7 linked regions of the Homo sapiens genome follow. Changing the gene in region 7 together with the main gene of any one other region gives a genetic interaction. Each region holds a gene or a part of one and is shown on either strand. Other genes may lie near its edges.

Region 1 (3,500 bases), on a different chromosome or scaffold from region 7:
TTCAATAACACTGGTAAAGAAACTTAAATAGATACTTCAGAATTTAATCATGTCACAGGAAACCCAGATTATATTTTACCTCTATCATACAACGAGTTCTCTCTTGCTGAAATCTTTGTAAAAATGGTCCAACAAGATGGTATACATAAAGCAACTGGAATTCGGTCTTCACTATAGGAAGAAGTACTTCAGTAAGAAACCTAAAATTTGAAGATAAAAATCTCCTGTGACTTGAAATTATTTAAATTGTTTGAATTTTGTTCATACAGTATATACAAAGTATTACAATAAAATATAATTTTTTAAAGTTCCTTTTAATTTGGTAACAATAATATTTCTAATTAATCTCACATCTCTCACTGGCTATTACTTTCACTTGATTATTTTTATTTATTTATTTTTTTGAGACGGAGTCTCACACTGTTGCCTGGGCTGGAGTGCAGTGGCGTGATCTTGGCTCACTGCAACCTCCGCCTCCTGGGTTCAAGTGATTCTCCTGCTGACTAGCTGGGATTACAGGTGCACACCACCACGCCTGGCTAATTCTTTTATTTTTAGTAGAGACGGGGTTTCACCATGTTGGCCAGGATGGTCTCAATCTCCTGACCTTGTGATCCACCCATCTCGGCCTCCCAAATTGCTGGGATTACAGGCATGAGTCACCGCGCCCAGCCGCAAGTTGTTCTAATGAATGAAGTATATACCTCATCTGTTAATGAGATTAGAACAAAATGAAATACAATTTTTTTTTTTTTTTCAGATGGAGTCTCACTCTGTCACCAGGCTGGAGTGCAGTGGCGCGATCTTGGTTCACTGCAATTTCCAGCTCCCTGGTTCAAGTGATTCTCCTGCCTTAGCCTCCCGAGTAGCTGGGGTTACAGGCACACACCACATGCCCAGCTAATTTTTGTATTTTTAGTAGAGATGGGGTTTCACAATGTTGGCCAGGATGGTCTCAATCGCCTGACCTTGTGATCTGCCCACCTCGGCCTCCCAAAGTGCTGGGATTACAGGCATGAACCACCGCACCCAGCCTACGTCAAATTTCTTTAAGAAATTATTATACTTACTTTGGAATGAGAGAAAGTTGTCCGATGCTAGAATGGTGCCACACAGCATGTGCAAGAGCTAACGTATAGCTACAACTCATCTCAGAGTAGGACTGATGACAGGCAGTGAAATCAAAGAGGCGGAATGGATAGCCAACCCACTCTGTTTCAGACGTCAAGCTGGGGCTGCTGATGACACTCACAATTCGATCATGAAGAACAATCCAATATGGCTCCTTTAAAATCGGAGGAAAGCTAGTGAAAAATATCACTTATCCAGCATTCCACCCCAAAGTCTAAAGTAATAGTGTTTTCTCATTCTTTAAAGTTTTCTATTTTTCCAGCTTCTGCACAATACAGCTGGGTGGCTTTGTAACTGGTCAAATTAAGTCAGTAACAACCTGGGAGAAGTAACTGTGAGTTAAGGGGCTCCATACATGTATCTGTCCAGCTCATTTAGGTACCTGATATACACTATGCAGTAAATCAATTAATTTATCAAACAATAAATCTATAGCTTTATTACTTATTTAAAAATAATAAACTTTAAAAAAATATGTGTGGAGGTCAGAGAAAGGAGTCTTCATGTGAGCTGGAAAAGTCAGGGAAGGCTTCATTCACTGAGAAAGGAGGCTCTAAGCTAGCAAAGAATGAATAGGCTTTAGAGAAGGTGATGGAAAGAAGAAGCTTCTGGAATAAGAAAAATGTCTTATTCCCTCACATTCAGAAGTACCTAAAACATGTCTTAAGCACTATCTGAAGGAACAAAGGCTGTAGATATACAACACGTTAAGTGGCCAAGAGTAGATCAAGCTATTATGTAAAAACTAAAGTTGGATAGGTAAGGTGGTACCAGAAAATGCAGAGACCCGTAAGTCACATAGATATATTTAGATCTAATACAGAAAAGCAAAAACTAGTCACTGTAGATTTTTAAAGCAGTAATAATATGAAAAAACTTTAAAAACATAAAATACTTCATTAATTTGCATGACGTCCCGTACAAGGGCATCCTATATGCATCTTTTTCTTTTTGCTGACATGGAACAGCTGGCTGTATTTCATCACTAAGTACAAATCACAATTATTAACTCACTGGTAGGGCAGTGATGATCAAACCAATTGCATTCATCCATGCTGTAATGTTCTCTCTTGGCACTAAAGGCTGACTGCAACCGGCAAAAAAGAATGTAAGTATGAATTTATAAAAACATTTTAGATGGCTGACAACGGATCTTATTTTTAAAGAATATGTCTAATTCAGAGGATCGACAACTAATCCATTTCAATAAAACAATGGGGAATTTTTTATTGAATAAAAATGTAATATGCATAAAAACTCAAGAAGGCTTTTTAAAAATACTTCCTCCCCAATCATTATCCCATACTTCATGCTAATTTTTAAAAGAATCTTGAAATCTTGAAAACAAGATGAAGAGAATCTTGTTTTAAGTGACAAGTTAACATTATTCCTATATTAAATGTCAAACTGCTATTAATGAGTAGAAGTAGGAACAAACCCGGATCTTAGGATCCTGTCCAGGGCTCATTCCATAACTCCTATATCACAAAGACAAGATCTGGAACCAGAAAACAGTCATCATCCAATGTGCATCAGCCTTGCGGCAACAGGTTTGTCTTAAAAGTTTGAAATAGAATACCATTCTATTTACAAATAAACAACAAATCTTACTGCATGAACCAGAATACATACCTTTTTAGGACAACATTTAGAAGGGCATTCCCAACTTCTTTGCCTGAAACTGCCAAGGCCATGAGCTCCACACAAGTAACATGGAGAGCATGGGCAGCTGGGTTGGGAAACTCATTGAATCTCCAGTCACAGTTTGGAAAGGGACCAGGAGATTTGCCAGCCATCGGTGCACACAGTTAAAGCAATAACAATTGGACTATCTCATCTGATTGTCAATTTATCTGATTATGAGCTGCCAAGAAGTGATTTGTCTACGCTTAGAGAGATTAAGAGGCAAATGCAAACCAAATACAAATGAGTTTGACATGATTGAAATGTATTAAAAGCAACCATTTGATTAACCACAGGTATAAATGGTTGGTCTTTCAGGTGGGTTCTTATAAATATGACATATAATAGCCACAGATGCAACCAAGGTTTACCTAGGTTTCATGAGCCTATTTCTTTTAATAGTTATAAGACATTAATATGAAAATTATTTTCTAATGAGTCATTCTTTTGCTTCAGAAAATAAATTCCTTTGTGTAGGAAAATAAGTCATGCTCATTTATGTAGAATTTCTTACCTAGTAAAATAGTGGTATGGTTATAGACATTAAGTATAGAGTGCTAATAACTGAAAATATAAAATCAAAATGAAGAAATAAACATCCAAGTATATTTTCACTAAAATATACCTTTTCAATAAAGAAAAATATATTTTATCATTTATTATTTACTACAAACATTAATTTTTTT
Region 2 (2,683 bases), about 140 Mb from region 7:
ATTGAGTGACTGAATGTCTAAGAATCTCCAGAAAAAAACAGGCATCTATCATCCTGACCCAAGGCATATTTTAACATAACCTGGGAGAAGAGAGTTAAGTACAAGTTAAAAAAAATTCTGCCCTAGTTTTGAGAAAGCCTGGCTGGAATTCTGACTGTCTTACATACATATGTGCAAGGTTAGCCTGCAAGATTCTAGTTTTTATTTACCAGTGTGCCAGAATCTGAAACAAGCTACTGGGAGGGAAGGTATTTGTCCTTTAGTAAAATTCCCTGTATTTCAGCTGTAATCAAAGTTACCTCAAAGCAGGTGCTTTTTTTTTTTTTGAGACAGAATCTCACTCTGTTGCCCAGGCTGGAGTGCAGTGGCACGATCTTGGCTCACGGCAACCTCCACCTCACAAGCAGCTGGGACTATAGGCATGTGCCACCACGCTCAGCTAATTTTTTGTATTTTTAGTAGAGACGGGGTTTCATTGTGTTGGCCAGGCTGGTCTCGAACTCCTGGCCTCAAGTGATCTGCTGGCCTTGGCCTCCCAAAGTGCTGGGATTACAGGTGTGAGCCACCGAGCTTGGCCAAGTGCTTAAAATAGTTAATGCTAATGCCACAGTCCAATTTAAATCTTTTCTTAGTTCTCAACTTTCCTTAATCTTAAAGCAGCATTCGGTTCTGAGCAGCTACACTCAGTCTCCACTAATGGCTGCTGAGACTATGTTTCCTCTCTCAATTCTCTGATCTATTTGCTTTCTTGTCATTCCTTGTTTTTTGTGTGTATTCCTTGACTTACCTCTTCTCCTGTCTTCATTAATTAGGTTAATTTTGGGGCCCCATGGTGTTTCACGTAAAAAGATTTGGCTGGGCGTGATGGCTCATGCCTATAATCCCAGCACTTTGGGAGGCCATAGTGGAGGATCTCTTGAGCCCAGGAGTTCCAGACCAGCCTGGGCAACATAGCAAGACTCTATCTACAAAAAATAAAAAAAAATTAGCCGGGCCTGGTGGCATGTGCCTGTGGTCCTAGCTACTCAGGAGGCTGAGGTAGGAGGATCACTTGAGCCTGGGAGGTCGAGGCTGCAGTGAGCCATGAACATGCTACTGCATTCCAGCCTGGGCAACAGAGTGAGACCCTGGCTCAAAAACAAAAACAAAAACTAGTTTGTTTTAGTATTCATTAATTACGTATATGAGCACTGGTAGTCTAGTGTTTGTTCTTGTATACAGTGTTTTCTTAAATGAGATGATGCTATTTAATTCTGTTACTTGTTTTTTCAACTAATGGATCTTTTAAAGTTTTTTATTTAAATTTTTTGTGGGTACATATTAGGTACATATACTTATGGGGTACATGAGATGTTTTTATAAAGGCTCAGCTAATGTATCTTGAATATCATGTATTCATAAAGATGACTGAAATAGTTTCTGGAACAAAGTCTGATAGAAAAAATACTCAATTCCTAATTTAAGTGTTAGAGACTTTAATGTAAGCTATCTAATCTGAACTAGTTTCATTATTTGTGTGTGGGTACATGTTATGTGCTCCGTAAGGCATCTTTCAATTTGAAAATTTCATAATTGTAATTTCACTGCCTTTATAAATTGCTTTTTTTTTGGAGGCAGGGTCTCTGTCACCCAGGCTGGAGAGCAGTGGCACAGTCATAGCTCACTGCAGCCTCGAACACCTGGGCTGAAGTGATCCTCCCTCCTTAGCCTCCCAAAGTGCCGGGATTACAGGCATGAGCTACTGCACCTGGCCCATAAATTGTCATACTTTTAAAGAGCCTATTACACAAAGTATCATCAGAATCATCCCAAGACTCATTTCCTGATTCCTAATTATTTAAAATTTTGCTTTTAGGCGAGGCATGGTGGCTCAAGCCTATAATCCCAGCACTTTGGGAGGCCAAGGCAGGCAGATCATTTGAGGTCAGGAGTTTAAGACCAGCCTGGCCAACATGGTGAAACCTGAAACCCCATCTCTACCAAAAAAATAAAAAAATTTAGCCAGGTGTGGTGGTGCATGCCTGTAATCCCAGCTACTTGGGAGGCTGAGGCAGGAGAATCGAACCCAGGAGGCAAAGGCTGCAGTAAGCCGAGATCATGCCTCTGCACTCCAGTCTGGGCAACACAGTGAGACCCTGTCTCAAAAATAAATAAAATGAAAAAATTGCTTTTAAATCATGAAACCATTCTGTTTTCTTTACTTGGAATGTTTTCTTCCCTGCTTAAAATCTGGCTTGTCTCAAATCTGAACTCCTCCATAAAGTCTTCCCTATTGGTTTCAGCTACTCAGGACCTTCAACCATCCTGGCTGCTTACCACGTAACTTCCTGAGTGATATACCACACCCCTTTATTATTTCAGATATTGTGTCTCTTAGGGACTGTTTTCTGAATTACCTATTGTCCCAGACATGAAGTTGCTCCTTGACAAATAGTTCCCCAAATGGCTGTACCTTCTTCTCCAGAACCCTTAGGAACTTTGTCCTCAGTTTCCCAAATTTCTAAGACTTCGGTGACTTAGTAAAGGATTTTTTTCCTTTTTTTGAGACAGAGTCTCATTCTGTCTCCCAGGCTGGAGTGCAGTGCCTTGATCTCGACTCACTGCAGTTTCCACCTCCCGGGTTCAAGAAATCCTCCTGCCTCAGCCTTCCGAGTAGCTGGGACTCCAGGAGTGTGCTACCACA
Region 3 (2,335 bases), on a different chromosome or scaffold from region 7:
AAGGCATTAAATTTATGTTTGTCTCCTTTTTCTGTTTAATTTTAAAGATATTTAAAATGATATAACTAAAAATGTTTAGCTGGTGTATATGTTTTGAATACCTTTTTCCCCTCAGTTTAGTATATTGACTTTGTACTGTAAATTTTTCTGCTTTTCTTGGATAATCTCAGGATTTTCATGAGGATAGGGGGAACTCAACTTTATTTATGAGACAAAATTTCCATACAAAGCTCAATCTCCTTTATACACCCACAGACATAATATTAGTTTTTAAAAAGCCAATTTCTTCATAGTTTTTTCCCATTAAATTCTCAAGGAACACTTGGATCTTTAAGCACGGAACATAATCATGATGTTAAAAACAGAGAAAATAAGGCTTTATAAAGTTAATGATTATCATCAGTATGAATTTAAGGTTTGTTTTAATTTCAAGATTTGATTTTTTATACGTGTAATTCTATTATCTACCCAAGCAGATCTGTAGTGGTTCCAATTAGACTTCTCAAACAGCAAATTTATCCTGATTTTATTTGAAAAGCCTCTTGGATTGATAGTATAGTAGCTCAGGCATTGGAAACTTTCTGCAAACTGTTTTGGGTTTGCAGGCCAGATGGTCTCTGTGGCAGCTACTCAGCTCTGCAATTTCAGTGTGAAAGAAGCCATAGACAGTACTTGAATGAAGGACTGTGGCTGGATTGGCCTTTTAGTTTGACCCCCTACATTAGGCCCCAAATTTTCTTACCCTGAGGTGCTGATATCTGTATGGATGAGTTATTTGTCACTAAAGTTATGAGTTGTGCCTAAAAGTTAAAACTGTTGACTGTATTATGTAATGATCAGTATTTCAGTTGGGAAGATATTTTAGAGTCTAGATAATTATGTTTGTATATTGAAAAAATGGTGGCCAGTTTTTAAGTTCCTTAATAGAAGAGAATTATGTCTCAGCACATATAACAGTAATGCTAATTTATTGAAACTACTGCTGTTAGAGCACTTCTTATTCATTGTCTTTTAGTGAAATTTATGGCGTAACACTTTGTCAGAGAGGAGGCTATATAATTCGGAGCGGAAATTGTCTATAAGTAGGCATTTATTTCATGATTGATATGTCACAGAAATCATGGTAGTAAATCACATTGCTATTTGAATACCCTGTTTTTGTAAGTTTTTAAAACTCATATTCTGAAAAGATTTCATTCTCTTAGTGTTAGCTTGGGAGTTAGATTGCCATGATTAAACTATTATTTATCCTTGTGTAATATTAGTTTTTAACTTTAACATCTGTTTCTTTTTAATCTATAATGAGCTAGTTTTATGGAAAATGGAATTTCTTACTATATAAAGAATACAGAGACTCATTGTATTAGAGAATCAAGTCAGCCAGCTAAAGTATCCTACTGTTAAATCCTTAAACCTAATTTTGGAAAAGAGAAAGTTAATCAATGTATTTACCTTACATGTTGGAAAGAACTATGTTAGGTCTGATTCATGTGAAGAAGATGTTGCAAAGGATTTATTTCACAAATTTTAAAGGAGATATGAGTAAAAGTTTTTATCTTTTCTTGACTTTTTCTCCTGAACACTTATGTCTTAGCAAGTGGTCAACATGAGGATTTGAACGCCTAATTGTTGGTAAATGGTTGAGGCATGACAAAAATATTAATATCCACTGTTTACCATCATGTTATTTGAAACAAAAGTGACCATGTATACTATCTTGCTTGAAGAAGTCTTTGACAGAAAAAGCAATATCATGTCATTTATAAATTTTCTTGTTCTAAAGAAAGCAGTTATATATATATATAAATTATGTAAATAAAAGTTATTTTATATCATTTCTGTTGTGTCCTTTTAAGATGACTAAATAAAGAATTGGCTGGGTATCGTGGCTTACACCTGTAATCCCAGCACTTTCGGAGGCCGAGGTGGGAGGATTGCTTGAGCCCAGGAGTTCAAGACCAGCCTGGGCAACATAATGAGACCTCATCTCTACAAAAAAATTAAAAATCAGCCAACTGTGGTGGTGTGTGCTTTTGGTCCCAGTTACTCAGGAGGCTGGGATGAGAGGTTCGCTTGAGCCCAGGAGGAGGTTGAGGCTGCAGTGAGCTGTGATTGCCCCACCACACTCCAGCCTGGATGACAGAAGAAGACCCTGTCTTTGTGGGGAGGAGACAAATTTTTGACAGGTGTGCATGTCGTTATTTCAAAGCTGTAGGAGTCTGCAATGTGATTGTCCTAATAGTATTTGGAAGAGACTCCACACAGCATCTCTGTTTGCTGCAGCATCGCATCCTGAATCTGCTGGAGAGCCCTGTCTTACATTGGGTTTCACTAA
Region 4 (3,500 bases), on a different chromosome or scaffold from region 7:
AAAACTCTGCAAGTTACTTATACCCTTTAATACAAAGCTGGTAACTGGGGCTTTGCTCTACTGGAAATGCAAACTTTGCACTGCATGCAAATACTTATCTGCTCACTGCCACAGTGAGGACCATTCAAGGATACCTGTTATTTGTCAAAAAATACAGAATTTACCCACTGCCTGGGAAGCAAAGAGCAAAGAAGTCCTCTGCTTGCTGTGATACTGTGCCACCACTGTGCTGCAGATTCCAGTCAAATACTCCTACTCCATTCTGGGAATGTGAGGCACTTATTCTGGAACCACAGACAGAAAAGCCTGCAGGAATCCAGAAGGCAAAATAACCCAGGAAATCACAGCCACACATCTCTGCAGTTGGACCTTTTCAGAATCAGCAGCTAGTGTTTGTTTGTCATCACAGTAATACTGTAAAAGCAAAAGGAAAAGAGACCCAGGCCTTGCACTGACCTTGTCTTGTAAGGTGAGAACAGTCACTTTATGGACATTCAGCCGCACAGTCACCTCTGGCTTGCTGGCACATACATAACAATTGGGGTTGGGAGGATCCAGTGCACAAGGCACAAGAAGCTTCTTTCTTGGGTTTGGTTGTTTATTCAAAAAAATCTTTGGAGGAGAAATAACAGGCAGAAATCGGAAACGTGCTGTAATTTTATACGCCATACAATCTAAAATCTCGTTTACCAGATATCCAATAAAAAATGACTTAAAAATTCCCGTCCAGATGGCAAAATGGATCAGGAAAATCATGACCTTTTTAGGAACCTGGTTTTTCAACCTTCTTTTTTTTTTTTTTTTTTTTTTTTTTTTTTTTTTGAGACGGAGTCTTGCTGTCGCCCAGGCTGGAGTGCAGTGGCGCAATCTCGGCTCACTGCAGGCTCCGCCCCCTGGGGTTCACGCCATTCTCCTGCCTCAGCCTCCCGAGTAGCTGGGACTACAGGCGCCCGCCACCTCGCCCGGCTAATTTTTTGTATTTTTTTTTTAGTAGAGACGGGGTTTCACCGTGTTAGCCAGGATGGTCTCGATCTCCTGACCTCGTGATCCGCCCGCCTCGGCCTCCCAAAGTGCTGGGATTACAGGCGTGAGCCACCGCGCCCGGCCTCAACCTTCTTTTCTAATCAGCTAAAGGCTAGGCTAGCTAGGCTTGCTGAAAAGACATCTCCTTGTATTATATAAGACTCCGCGTTCTTCTGCAACCTGATTTGGCAAGAGTAAGGGCACAGGCATGTTAATCTGTGGTGCCATCATTGTATCAGCAGCTGGTGTCCCTCCCTGAGGCTATTCTTATCAAGCAAGCAATCTCCTGACAAGACCAACACATTAATTTCTCCAGTTAACGATAGTGCCTTTCACAGTTGTCTAGAATCAACATCACTGCCTTCCCAAATTTTCTGATTAGAATAACATTTATATAATGAGGGAAAAAAATGTATTTCTGGCAGTATATGTACCTATTTACCATTTCTCTAATACTAAACAAAAAAATAATTAAGAACCAAGGCAAATATACAAATTACACTGAAATTAAGAAAAGCTCCAAGCTCCTGCTTCTACTAAAGTTTAGAAAACACTAGCAAGATCCAACAGAAACAACAAATGTCAGAAGACAAGAAGCTGAGACACAAACCTTTATCTTGTGACTACAATGTAGTGTTGAGTCTGCTAAGAGGAATGAATTCTAAAGGAGTACTCTACGGATTCCCCTGAGAATACAGAACTAAATCCCTCAAGAGACACTAAAGCCGTCCTCTGTAAAATAGCTTCTCCGTACAATGAATACTGGTAGGTGGAAGGGCTAGAAGCAAACTGCCCAGGCCAAGCAGGCTACAGAGGGAGAAAGATTTGTTTGATTTTGGGCTTCACCGGGAAGGTAAGTGTGCTAAGGGAAACTGACAATAATAAAAGCAATTGCTACCACTATTAATACCTGGGCTAACATTAATCCAGGCTGGAATTCATTTGCAAATGTAAAAAAATGAAATCCAGATATATTACTATATTTTTTCTTGAGGCAGAGTTTCGCTCTTGTTGCCAGGCTGGAGTGCAATGGCGCGATCTCGGCTTAATGCAACTTCCGCCTCCCAGGTTCAAGTGATTCTCCTGCCTCAGCCTCCTGAGTAGCTGGGATTACAAACATGCACCACCATGCCCAGCTAATTTTATATATATATATATATATATATATATATATATATTTTTTTTTTTTTTAGTAGAGACCAGGTTTCTCCACGTTAGTCAGGCTAGTCTCGAACTTCCAATCTCAGGTGATCTGCCTGCCTCGGCCTCCCAAAGAGCTGGGATTACACGTGTGAGCCATCGTGCCCGGCCAGATATATTACTATTAATAGTCCAAGAGTGGCATGGAGCTAAGCAGGCAAAGAAACCGGAAGGATGTGATGGGAAATAACAGACATTTTAATAAGTTCAGTAATTAGTACTGTTGGTGAGCTCAAAGGGATACTACAGCTTCAGGCTGCTATAAAAAATTTTTTTTAAATAATTTAAAAACTGGGTATCGGCCAGGAACGGTGGCTCACTCCTGTAATTCTAGCACTTTGGGAGGCCAAGGTGGGCAGATCACCTGAGGTCAGGAGTTCATGACCAGCCTGGCTAACATGGTAAAACCCTGTCTCTCCTAAAACTACAAAAATTAGCCAGGCGTGGTGGCACCCGCCTGTAATCCCAGCTACTGGGGAGGCTGAGGCAGGAGAATCACTTCTACTTGGGAGGTGGAGGTTGCAGTGAGCTGAGATCGCGCCACTGCACTCTAGCCTGGGTGACAGAGCAAGACTCCATCTCAAAAAAAAGATACCAAAAAATAAAGTTCTTAGAAATTAAAAATATAACATATACAATAAAAGTTTAAATAGAAAACTAAATCAAGATGGCAGACTGGGCAATTTGATTCTGTTCCTTCAAACTGAAATTTCATGAAAATAAAATATTTTAAGAGTGCATCGAGGCTGGGCGCAATAGCTCACGCCTGAAATCCCAGTACTCTGGGAGGCTGAGAAGGGCGGATCACTTCAGGCCAGGAGTTTGAGACCAATCTGGGCAACAGGTGAAACACCGTCTCTACTAATAATACAAAAATTAGCCAGGTGTGGTGGCATGTGCCAGTAATCCCAGCTACTTGAGAGGCTGAGGCAGGAGAATCGCTAGAACCCAGCAGGTGGAGGTTGCAGTGAGCCGAGATCACATCACTGTACTCCACTGTACTCCAGCCTGGGTGAGAGCAAGATTCCACCTCAAAAAAAAAAAAAAAAAAGAAAAAGAAAAGGAAAAAAAGAGCGCATCGGGCCAAGTGCAGTGGCTCACACCTGTAATCCCAGCACTTTGGGGGGCCAAGGTGGGAGGACTGCTTGAGCCCAGGAGTTCAGGACCAACCCGGACAACATAGCAAGACCCCATCAGTTTAAAAAAAAAAGGCCGGGCGCAGTGGCTCATGCCTGTATGCCTGTAATCCCAGCACTTTGGGAGGCCGAGGTGGGCGG
Region 5 (3,500 bases), on a different chromosome or scaffold from region 7:
CTCATAGTAGTTGGTGAGGTTCTGCTCAATGAAGTGGAAGGTACGGACACTGAGGGTCTCAGAAACCAGGCCTGGCCGGAAGGAGGCAGCTCGGTTGAAGGCCATGAAGAAAGCCAAGGCCCACATATAATAGGTCTCATCATGCTGCTGAGCTTTCTCCCGAAGCAGGTGATCCTGACATTTAAAAAAGAAAAAAAAAGATCACCATGACTCCAGGGCTTCCAACTTCTTCCTTCCTGTCCTATGATGATGGAATGGATGCTGGACACCGTCATAATTTTTTTTTTTTTGAGGCGGAGTCTCACTCTATTGCCCAGGCTGGAGTGCAATGGCATGATCTCGGCTCACCGCAACTTCCACCTCCTGGGTTCAAGCGATTCTCCTGCCTCAGCCTCCTGGGTAGCTGGGATTATAGGTGCCCGCCACCACGCCCAGTTAATTTTTTGTATTTTCAGTAGAGATGGGGTTTCACCATGTTGCAGGCTGGTCTCAAACTCCTGACCTCAGGTGATCCACCTGCCTTGGACTCCCAAAGTGCTGGTATTACAGGCGTGAGCCACTGCGCCTGGTCTTTTTTTTTTTTTTTTTTTTTTTTGACAGTCTTGCACTGTCATGATGAGGCTGGAGTGCACTGGTCTGATCTCGGCTCACTGCAACCTCTGCCTCCCAGGTTCAAGTGATTATCCTGCCTCAGGCTCCTGAGTAACTGGGACTACAAATGCACACCACCATGCCGGCTAATTTTTTTTTTTTTTTGTATTTTTTTTTTTAGTAGAGATACGGTTTCACCATATTGGCCAGGTTGGTCTTGAACTCCTGACCTCAAGTGATCCACTGCCTCAGCCTCTCAAAGCGCTGGGATTACAGGTGTGAGCCACCACGCCGGGACACCGCTATAATACTCTAGGATCCACAATTTCCAACTCTCTCCTGTTCTCCCTTTCCTCTCCCTCTGAGGCAATTTTTCCAGAGCCTCTTTTGTCATGCCAGGAGCCCACTCGTTCCTGGCATTTTCACTATCTCTCAGGGACATCCTAACTGTATATCCTTCCCACCTACGAGTCCACATTCCAGGGGCAGCCTCCCCGAGCTCCTCCCCACTTCTTACCCACCAACAGCTGCATCATCACCTGTCTATTCCATTCCTGATTATCTCCATATCCTTCACAGGTTCTCACCTTTACTGATCCCATGAGCCGGTTGTAACAGTTCTCCAGGAACTCAGAGCAGAAGTCTCTGAGGAAGAGCCTCACATTGAGGGCAGAACGGCGCTGAATGGACAGCTCTCGGGCGGCCTGGCGACGTTTAGGCACCTTTTTCGGCTGCTTTCCCAAATCTGAACTGTAGTTTCGTAGCTGGGTGTGTCGGTTGGGGGATTAGAATTACTCCTAAATACCACTTTCCCCTTGCAGCTCTCGTCAATTTTCTCAGAAGAAACTAATTTTTGTTTTTCTTTTGAGACAAGAACTTGCTCTGTCACCCAGGCTGGAGTGTAATGATGCAATCATAGCACACTGGAGCCTTGAACTCCTGGGCTCAAGGAATCCTCCCACCTCAGCCTCCCGAGTAGTCAGGACCACAGGCGGGTGCCACCATGCTCAGTTAGTATTTTTCACTTGTTGTAGGGACAGGGTTTTGCCATGTTGCCCAGGCTGGTCTCGAACTCCTGGGCTCAAGCAATTCTCCTTCCTTAGCTTCTCAAAGTGTTAAGATTACAGGCATGAGCCATTGTACCCAACCTTTAATTTAATTTTTTTTTTAGAGACAGGGTCTTGCCATGTTGCCCAGTCTGATCTTGAACTTCTGGGCTCAAGCAATCCTCCTGCCTCAGCCTCCCAAAGTGCTGGGACCACAAGTGTGAGCCACCAGGCACAGCCAAGAACTCTTAAGATGATTACCCTGCTTAAGCTATGCAACTCCACTATGTTCCCACTCCAGATGTAAGAATACTCACGTTGTGAAGGCCTTTGTGAAAGATGAGGTCCCTCTCCCCAATGGATTTCAACCCCTGGACAATATAGGAGCCCCCAAATCGAGAATGCCTGCAGAAACAAAAAGGTCCAAGGTGATTTTTCAGTTCTCTGGAAACTTTATCTCCATTCTCTATCATCGGCACATTGGAGCAAGTTAAAACTACAAAATGTTGGTCGGGCACGGTGGCTCACGCCTATAATCCCAGCACTTTGGGAGGCTGAGGCAGGCGGATCACCTGAGGTCGGGAGTTTGAGACCAGCCTGGCCAACATGGTGAAACCCTGTCTCTACTAAAAATACAAAAATTAGCCTGGCATGGTGGCATGCGCCTGTAGTCCCAGCTACTGGGGAGGCTGAGGCAGGAGAATCGCTTGAACCCAGGAGACAGAGGTTGCAGTGAGCAGAGATCGTGCCAGTGCACTCCAGCCTGGGCGACAAGAGCAAAATTCTGTCTCAAAAAAAAAAAAAAAAAACACTAAAATGTTGTTCAATCACCCCACCTTAGAATTTGCCTTCTATGCCCTCAGCATTCCATGATGTAGGAAAAAGAACCTGCCTCTCTGTCACTCACCTGTTGCCTCGCTGGAGGGCTCGAGTCTTCTTTTCTGCCATCTCTCGCTGGCGCAACACCTCCAGTTCTGCAAAATCTGCACTCCGCTCCTGAGCTAAGCGTCCCTGCCCTACTCCCGCCAGCTGCTCGGGGTTCTAGATTGGAACAAAGAGGGAAGAATCAGGAGGACAGTCATTCCTTATCCTGAGTTCACGCCTACTGGGGATGCAAAGAGTGAACAAAATAGAACCCCATTAATGGGGCATTGTGCTGTCGTTCTCCCTTATCTGAGGGGGAAATGTTCTAAGACACCCACTGGATGCCTGAAACTGCAGACAGTACTGAAATATATATATGTATATATTCATATATACATATATATATTTGTATGTGTATACACATATACATAGAACATGTACGTTCTATGTTTTATAGAATGTATATATGTGCTATATATATAGTTATCAGAAAACAGAACATGTATACATATATATATACGCACATACACATATTCTATTATGTTTTTTCAATTTGATAACTAAGATGGCTAGTACATGACTAACAGGCGGGTATACACTGTGGATATGCTGGGCAGAGGGATGATTCACATCTTGTTTAGGACAAACAGGGACAAAAGATTTCATCACACTACTCAGAACAATGTACAAGTTTAAAACTTCTAAAATGTTTATTTCTGAAATTTTCCACTTAATATTTTCAGACCATGGTTGACTGTGAGTAACTGAAATCAAGGAAAGAAAACCATGAATAAGGGGGTACTACTGAACTCAAGACATGGCTACTCCTGCTGTCGCCTGCCTTCCCCAGATAATGCAGCCATTATCACAAGAGCAATTCTGGCTGTACAGCAGAAAAGTACATGGGCGGAGGGGACTCGGGCAATAGGCCAGGGTCTCACCTGGTCACGAAACATAAGGGAGACAATCTCTAGCACATGTAGGCTCCATTGCTCCTCA
Region 6 (3,500 bases), about 130 Mb from region 7:
CCCAACTCAGCCTCCCAAAGTGTTGGGATTACAGGCGTGAGCCACAGCACCCCGCCTTTTGTTTTCGTTTTTTTTGTTGTTGTTTTGAGAGAGTCTTGCTCTGTCGCCCAGGCTGGAGTGCAGTGGCGCGATCTCGGCTCACTGCAACCTCCGCCTCCTGGGTTCATGCCATTCTCCTGCCTCAGTCTCCCGAGTAGCTGGGACTATAGGCGCCCACCAGCACGCCCGGCTAATTTTTTTTTTTTTTTTTTTTGGTATTTTTAGTAGAGACGGGGTTTCACCATGTTAGCCAGGATGGTCTCAATCTCCTGACCTTGTGATCTGCCCGCCTCGGCCTCCCAAAGTGCTGGGATTACAGGCGTGAGCCACTGCACCTGGCCTTTTTTTTTTTTTGAGATGGAGTCTCACACTGTCACCCAGGCTGGAGTGCAGTGGCACAATCTTGGCTCACTGCAAGCTCTGCCTCCTGGGTTCATGCCATTCTCCGGTCTCAGCCTCTCTGAGTAGCTGGGATTACAGGTGCCCGCCACCACACCTGGCTAATTTTTTGTATTTTTAGTAGAGACGGGGTTTCACCATGTTAGCAAGGATGGTCTCGATCTCCTGACCTTGTGATCCACCCACCTCGGCCTCCCAAAGTGCTGGGATTACAGGCATGAGCCACCACGCCCAGCCTATTTTGTTTTTTAAGAGACACGGTCTCACTCTGTTGCCTGGGCTAGAGTGCAGTGGAGTTATCATAGCTCATTGTAACCTTGAACTCCTAGGCTCAATCAATTCTCCCACTTCAGCCACCAGAGCAGCTGGGACTAGAGGAGTACACCAAGCCCAGCTAATTTAATGTTTTTATATAATAATTTATTTACAACAAATAACATTTTTGGGAGAAGTCACTAAGCCTGATCTTCAATGTATTAAACACAGTTAAACCATAAAGAACCCCTAAATCATTGCTTTCAAAAACATGGCTATTTGGCTGGGCGCAGTGGCTCACGCCTGTAATCCCAGCACTTTGAGAGGCCAAGGCAGGCAGATCACCTGAGGTCAGAAGTTCAAGACCAGCCTGATCAACATGTGAAACCCTGTCTCTACTAAAAATACAAAAATTAGCTGGGCTTGGTGGCACATGCCTGTAGTCCCAGCTACTCGGGAGGCTGAGGCAGGAGAATCGCTTGAACCTGGGAGGTGGAAGCTGAAGTGAGTCAAGATCACGCCACTGCATTCCAGCATGGGCAAAAGAGCAAGACACCATCTCAAAAAAAAAAAAAAAATAGTTCAACTACTCTTAGGGTAGAGTTTCTCAGCCCTGGATCTATTGACGTGGAGGGGTGGGTGGCTGTCCGATGAATTGCATGATGTTTAACAGTATCCTTGGCCGATACCCACTAGGTGCCATTAGTACATCCTTGGTTGTGATAACCAAAAATGTCTCCAGATGTTGTCAATGTCCTCTGGGAGGCAAAATCACTCCAGTTGAAAATCATTAATTTGGCTAAAGGATAAAAGATCTGGCCAGGCACAATGGCTTATGCCTGTAATCCCAACACTTTTGTAGGCCAAGGTGGGCAGATTGCTTGAGCCCAGGAATTCGAAACCAGCCTGGGCAACAAAGCAAGACCCTATCTCTACAAAAAACACAAAATTTGCCTAGCATGGTGGTGTGCACCTGTAGTACCAGCTAATCAGGAGGCTGAGATGGGAGGATCCCGAGCCTGGGGAGGTCGAGGCTGCAGTGAGACATGATCTCCAGCCTGGGTGACTTTGAGATCCTGACTCAGGGAAAAAACAAACAAACAAAAAATCCCATTCAGAGAAAAGTTTGGAGTTGTAAGGGAAGAAGATTTTCTACCTAGCATGACAGGTGTGATAGTGAAGTATATAATGTTCTGTAGAGTGTCTGGAAAATTTTTCTTTTTTATTTGAGACGGAGTCTTGCTCCGTTGCCCAGGCCAGAGTGCACTGATGCCATCTCGGCTCACTGCAACCTCCGCCACCCAGGTTCAAGCGATTCTCCTGCCTCAGCCTCCCGAGTTGTTGGGACTACAGGCATGCACCACCATGACTGGCTAATTTTTGTATTTTTAGTAGAGATGAGGTTTTGCCATGTTGGCCAGGCTGGTCTCGAACTACTGACCTCAGGTGATCCGCCCACCTCAGCCTCCCAAAGTCCTGGGGTTACAGGTGTGAGCCACTGCGCCCGGCCAAGTGTCTGGAATACTAATTCTTATCCATTCCCACAGCATGGAACACTCATAGGAGGGCTGTAGTTTCATTAATATAAATAAGGCTAAAAATGGAAGTAATTTTTTCCCCTTTATTCAAATCTTATTAATTCTATGAATAAGTTCCCAACAATGGGACTACTGGGCAAAGAACAGGGACATCAGGTATGGACAGCCAAACAGCTTTTCCAATGCTGTCACCAGTAATGTCTGAATACATCAGCCTTTCCAAATCATACTCTATCCCCAACTCTAAGTTTCTGCAGGAGTGGGGCTAGTTCAACCCCAGCACCCACAGCCTGGCAAACAGCAGGCATTCAGTACTTGTGACTTGAATTGGATCCCCTTCAGCCTCCCATCCAGCGTATGGATGCCCTGATTCTCAGCAAACAAAAGAGGAGTGTCTGGAGGGGAGTCTAGAGTCTCTCTACCTTCCCTGCAGGACTCACGCTTTAGGGATTGCCACGCTCAGCCGCACAGGCTTAGACCCCAGTCCCACTGCTCCCTGGCACTCCGTCAGGGCTCGCTTCTGTTCCAGTTCATCTGTGAATTTCACAAAACCATAACCCCTGCATGAAAAAAATATACAATTTAGATCACAAATGTGATTAAAGTCTAAGAATGGACACATGAAAAAGAAGTAAGGATAAGAAGGTGGGCAGGAATGTAGAAAGGAAAAGAGGCTGAGAAGAGAAAGAGAGAGTCCATTAAACTAGAGGAAGAAAGGAGAGTCCCATCAACAGGTGTCCACATAGTGTCAAGATCCAAGTACAAACAATTCTAATATCTGCAGGAATTCCCACATTCAGTTCACCATCCTCCTCGACACCTTCACCCCTAGGGAACATTCCCAAATAGGAGCTTCCCCGACACCCTGCTGGAAAGTAACTCATAGAAGAAAATTCAGCAAATATTTACAGTCTGCCCTGTATGCCAGGCACTGTGCTACGCACAGGATGCAGCAGTCACAGAAAGACAACGTTCCTGCTCTCCTGAGCTCAAATTCTAGCAGAGGAATAAATTAATGCAAGCTAACATTTAATAAATATTTATTTCCCTAGCACTGCGCAGAGCATTTTCTCTCTCTTTTTTTTTTTTTTTTTGAGATGGAGTTTCACTCTTGTTGCCCAGGCTGGAGTGCAATGGCGTGATCTCGGCTCACTGCAAGCTCCGCCTCCCATGTTCACGCCATTCTTCTGCCTCAGCCTCCAGAGTAGCTGGGACTACAGGCACCCACCACCATGCCCAGCTGATTTTTTGTATTTTATTTTTTTAGTA
Region 7 (4,172 bases):
TTGCTGATAAAACAGATTGCAGTAAAGAAACTGGCCAAAACCTACCAAAACCAAGATGGCAACAAGAGTGACCTCTGGTGGTCTTCAACGCTATACTCCTACCACATGCTGTGTCGACATCAGGGAGTTAACTGTATATGGTCTACAAAGCAGAGGCATGAATAATCCAACCCTTGTTTAGCTTATAATCAATAAATAACTGCCTGGGCCAAGTGGCTCGTACTTGTAATCCCAGCACTTTCAGAGGTCGAGGTGGCTGGATCACTTGAGGTCAGGAGTTCGAGACCAGGCTGGCCAATCTGGAGAAACCCCCTCTCTACTAAAAACACAAAAATTAGCTGGGCATGCTGGCAGGCACCTGTAATCCAGGAGAATCACTTGAACCCGGGAAGCGAGGTTGCAGCCTCCCACGTAGCTGGAATTAAGGCGCGGACCAGCACACCTGGGTAATTTTTGTATTTTTAGTAGAGAAGGGGTTTTGCCATGTTGACCAGGCTGGTCTCAGATTCCTGACCGCAGGTGATCCGCCCAAAGTGCTGGAATTACAAGTGTGAGACTCATCTTTTTTTTTTTTTTTTTTTGAGACGGAGTCTTGCTCTGTCTCCCCAGCTAGAGTGCAGTGGTTCGCTGGATCTCAGCTCACTGCAACCTCTGCCTTACGAGTTCAAGCGATTCTCCCGCCTCAGCCCTCCTGAGTGGCTGGGATTACAGGCGCGCGCCACCACGCCCGACTAATTTTTTTTTTTTGTATTTTTAGTAGAGACGGGGTTTCACCACATTGGTCAGGCTGGTCTCGAACTCCTGACCTCATGATCCACCCGCCTCGGCCTCCCAAAGTGCTGGGATTACAGGCGTGAGCCACCGTGCCCGGCCCAAGACTCATCTTTCTTAAGCCCTTAAAGCACTTTGCACACATTACCTCATGGTATTACCACCCTCATTCAACAGATGAGGAAAGCTAGTTTCAAGCAAGTTCACTGAGGATCAGAGACGTTAAATGATTTGCCTAAAGTTAGAGAACTAATAAGTGAGAAAGCTAGTCCTGCTGCGTTTTACTAACGTGCCAATCAGCTGCCCAGGAAGATAATGAAAACTTGAGTAAGACAGGCAGCCAAAGCCACAGCGGGGACGTTCCCAGCCTGGCTCGCTTCCGGCACTGACGCCTCCAGCCGCGACCTCTAGACTTCAGCCCTTCCATTGGTCGTCCGTCACAGTGCCACAGTGCGCCATGCTCACACGACGGCCAGCAGCCAATCAGCGCGGCTCATCTTCGCCCAGCCAGGACACGCAGGATCGCGTTATCTGTCCCTCCCGCGGGCACATTGGGAGTTGTAGTCTAATTATATATTTCCGCCCTTAGTGTGGGGAGAGCGGGAACTACTCGACCCACAGAGCCGATCGCGGAGCGGATTCTGCTTTTAGGAGTACCCGCCAACAAGCGGGACCGAGCAGGAATCCGTATCTGGGAACAGGTGAGAGAGGATGTGTGCTGGGCCTTGGAGGAAGGGGGCCGAGACCGGGCCTTACTTCTGTAACGATACTGTGAGGCATCGGAAGGCCAGCCTGTTGTGTCCGTTTTGAAGGTCGGTGGGCTAGACTGGCTGGCCTTCTAGGGGTGTGGAGACTTCCCAACTCTGCCCTTGTGCTTTCCTGGAATCCCCAATATGCCCGGACCCCGGTTTACTCCTTTGCTGCGAGCCCTTCTCTCCCGTCCAGAGTTGCTCCGAGCCTATCTGCTCAGTCCTAGCGATTCCTGTGGGGCTTGGGACGCGCGGTTCAAGCACCCCGGACCATATGGATGCAGCACCCATGGGTTCTCGCTCCAATGCTTCTTTCCTCCTTGGGGCGTAACTCAGACCCTGGGCACCCCTCTCCACTGCCCAGGGGAGACCTGGGTTCTAGATTTGGCTCTGCCTCTACTATCTTCCTACCTCCTAGAGCCTCAGTTTGGCTTGTGTAAAATAGGATGACTTAAGGGTCCTTTCAGCCCCTAATCCTGGGGTACTTTACTCTGTACCGCCTCCTTACCCAGCCTTGTGCACGCCATCTTGAAGGCACTGAGTTCTAGCCTGTTTATTGTAAGTGGTGATTAGTTGGGTCTCAGTCACCCAGCCATACTTTTTTGTTCCCTGCGTATCCTTCCTGTAATTGTCCCCAAGCACATTCCACAAGAGGGAGGGGCACTCTGGGCTAAGGCTGGGGTGGGAGTTATCTGGGGAGCTGCCACCATGCCTCTGCCTTTGGTGCTTGCCCCTGCAGGGAGTGCTTAGTGCCCCCTCCCTATGCCACTCCCAGGATGCCCCTGTCCCGCTGGTTGAGATCTGTGGGGGTCTTCCTGCTGCCAGCCCCCTACTGGGCACCCCGGGAGAGGTGGCTGGGTTCCCTACGGCGGCCCTCCCTGGTGCACGGGTACCCAGTCCTGGCCTGGCACAGTGCCCGCTGCTGGTGCCAAGCGTGGACAGAGGAACCTCGGTGAGTGTGGTTGGGGTGAGGGGCCTTGGGGAGGGGAGCAGCTGATCAGGTTTCTGACTTGTTTTTCTTCTACTTAGAGCCCTTTGCTCCTCCCTCAGAATGAACGGAGACCAGAATTCAGATGTTTATGCCCAAGAAAAGCAGGATTTCGTTCAGCACTTCTCCCAGATCGTTAGGGTGCTGACTGAGGATGAGATGGGGCACCCAGAGATAGGAGATGCTATTGCCCGGCTCAAGGAGGTGAGGGATTCATGACTTGGGGGAGTAAGGCTTTGGTTCAGTTGCTCTGTACCTGTGTGGCATTCACCTGTGGCTTATGGGGGACTTTTGACAGATGTGAGAGAAAGCTTTTTTTTTTTTTTTGAGACAGAGCCTTGCTCTGTCACCTGGGCTGGAGTGCGATGGTGTGATCTCGGCTTGCTGCAACCTCCACCTCCTGGGTTCAAGTGATTCTCCTGCCTCAGCCTTCTGAGTAGCTGGGATTACAGGTGCGTGCCACCACATCCAGCAAACTTTTGTATTTTTAATAGAGACGGGGTTTCACTGTGTTGACCAGGCTGGTCTCGAACTCCTGACCTCAGGTGATCCACCCACCTCGGCCTCCCAAAGTGCTGGGATTACAGGTGTGAGCCACCGCGCCTGGCCGAGAAAGCTTTTACCTGAGGGACTCGAGTCTGCTCTGGAGAGGTTGGGGCCTGGGCAAGTATACTTACTCAGTCCATCAACCGGACTTTTGGCTCTGATGGAAGGTGGGTCATCCAAACTGCTTTGCTTTGGGGGTGGAGGCCTTGAACCTGGCAAGTCTTAGATTTTGTGTCCTGAAATCAGAAGCTGTTAGGTTGGCAGAGACCGGGGAAGAAGGCAGTCTGATATTGTCCTATCTCCCTGGGGCCTGAGTGAAGTTATTGTATCATTAGAAACCCCTATTCTAGAACATGAACTATTGCTGTGATACTTGCCAATTTTTTTCCTGTTGATTCTGGAGTATCTATTAAAATTCTTTTTATAAATGCTGTCTATCTCATATATCTCAGGGGAATGAAGGGAAAGGGGGGCTTTGCCTATACTGGAATGGGGATTAAAAGAGTCTTGGCCCGGCATGGTGGCTCACGCCTGTAATCCCAGGACTTTGGGAGGCTGAGGTGGGGGGGATCATGAGGTCAGGAGTTCGAGACCAGCCTGGTCAACATGGTGAAACCCCCGTCTCTACTAAAAATACAAAAATTAGCTGGGCGTGGTGGCGCCCACATGTAGTCCCAGCTACTCAGGAGGCTGAGGCAGGAGAATCACTTGAACCTGGGAGGCGGAGGTTGCAGTGAGCCGTGATTGTGCCACTGCACTCCAGCCTGAGTGACATAGCGAGATGAAGTCTTCCCTGTTAGTTAGGTCTGATTGATAGCCAGGCAGCAGAAGGCAAAGTGAGATGCAAGAGGAGACACTACTGGAGGAGTGGGAGATGGATCCCACAGCGTGGGTCCCCTGTAAGCTGTCTTCTGGCTGACTTTGGAGAGGCTTTGTTTTAATATAATGAAGGAGGCTTTTCATTTGCAGGAGGGTTGAACCCTGGTAGGCAGAGGTGGCTGGAAAAGTAGGGATGGGTTGTGAAGGGGAAGTCTAGGAGAGGTGGGGATGGGGAAGGAAACTGGGGAGGGACCTGAACAAGCCAGTCATCCCTATAGCATGTACTGAGTTTTCCGTGG

Evidence for each region.
Region 1: changes in FDPS (region 7) and MED23 together harm fitness more than expected from each alone (negative genetic interaction), as found in Homo sapiens cells (one large-scale study listed by BioGRID).
Region 2: changes in FDPS (region 7) and EMC1 together harm fitness more than expected from each alone (negative genetic interaction), as found in Homo sapiens cells (one large-scale study listed by BioGRID).
Region 3: changes in FDPS (region 7) and BDP1 together harm fitness more than expected from each alone (negative genetic interaction), as found in Homo sapiens cells (one large-scale study listed by BioGRID).
Region 4: changes in FDPS (region 7) and UBA2 together harm fitness more than expected from each alone (negative genetic interaction), as found in Homo sapiens cells (one large-scale study listed by BioGRID).
Region 5: changes in FDPS (region 7) and TIMELESS together harm fitness more than expected from each alone (negative genetic interaction), as found in Homo sapiens cells (one large-scale study listed by BioGRID).
Region 6: changes in FDPS (region 7) and TRNAU1AP together harm fitness more than expected from each alone (negative genetic interaction), as found in Homo sapiens cells (one large-scale study listed by BioGRID).

What each region holds. Positions count from the first base shown.
Region 1 is NC_000006.12:131,590,243-131,593,742, forward strand, and holds part of MED23 (mediator of RNA polymerase II transcription subunit 23), read right to left. Parts: intron 2,930-3,500; coding exon 2,764-2,929; intron 2,219-2,763; coding exon 2,146-2,218; intron 1,286-2,145; coding exon 1,071-1,285; intron 201-1,070; coding exon 80-200; intron 1-79. UniProt on the Homo sapiens protein: Required for transcriptional activation subsequent to the assembly of the pre-initiation complex. Component of the Mediator complex, a coactivator involved in the regulated transcription of nearly all RNA polymerase II-dependent genes.
Region 2 is NC_000001.11:19,215,160-19,217,842, reverse strand, and holds the end of EMC1 (ER membrane protein complex subunit 1 isoform 1 precursor), read left to right. Parts: 3' UTR 1-2,183; downstream 2,184-2,683. UniProt on the Homo sapiens protein: Part of the endoplasmic reticulum membrane protein complex (EMC) that enables the energy-independent insertion into endoplasmic reticulum membranes of newly synthesized membrane proteins.
Region 3 is NC_000005.10:71,565,986-71,568,320, forward strand, and holds the end of BDP1 (transcription factor TFIIIB component B'' homolog), read left to right. Parts: 3' UTR 1-1,835; downstream 1,836-2,335. UniProt on the Homo sapiens protein: General activator of RNA polymerase III transcription. Requires for transcription from all three types of polymerase III promoters. Requires for transcription of genes with internal promoter elements and with promoter elements upstream of the initiation site.
Region 4 is NC_000019.10:34,455,881-34,459,380, reverse strand, and holds part of UBA2 (SUMO-activating enzyme subunit 2), read right to left. Parts: intron 613-3,500; coding exon 457-612; intron 1-456. UniProt on the Homo sapiens protein: The heterodimer acts as an E1 ligase for SUMO1, SUMO2, SUMO3, and probably SUMO4. It mediates ATP-dependent activation of SUMO proteins followed by formation of a thioester bond between a SUMO protein and a conserved active site cysteine residue on UBA2/SAE2.
Region 5 is NC_000012.12:56,428,927-56,432,426, forward strand, and holds part of TIMELESS (protein timeless homolog), read right to left. Parts: coding exon 3,443-3,500; intron 2,679-3,442; coding exon 2,545-2,678; intron 2,043-2,544; coding exon 1,955-2,042; intron 1,356-1,954; coding exon 1,179-1,355; intron 175-1,178; coding exon 1-174. UniProt on the Homo sapiens protein: Plays an important role in the control of DNA replication, maintenance of replication fork stability, maintenance of genome stability throughout normal DNA replication, DNA repair and in the regulation of the circadian clock.
Region 6 is NC_000001.11:28,566,585-28,570,084, reverse strand, and holds part of TRNAU1AP (tRNA selenocysteine 1-associated protein 1), read right to left. Parts: intron 2,792-3,500; coding exon 2,672-2,791; intron 1-2,671. UniProt on the Homo sapiens protein: Involved in the early steps of selenocysteine biosynthesis and tRNA(Sec) charging to the later steps resulting in the cotranslational incorporation of selenocysteine into selenoproteins. Stabilizes the SECISBP2, EEFSEC and tRNA(Sec) complex.
Region 7 is NC_000001.11:155,307,494-155,311,665, forward strand, and holds the start of FDPS (farnesyl pyrophosphate synthase), read left to right. Parts: upstream 1-1,372; 5' UTR 1,373-1,472; exon of another isoform or gene 1,473-1,583; intron 1,584-2,295; 5' UTR 2,296-2,296; coding exon 2,297-2,472; intron 2,473-2,549; coding exon 2,550-2,712; intron 2,713-4,172. UniProt on the Homo sapiens protein: Key enzyme in isoprenoid biosynthesis which catalyzes the formation of farnesyl diphosphate (FPP), a precursor for several classes of essential metabolites including sterols, dolichols, carotenoids, and ubiquinones.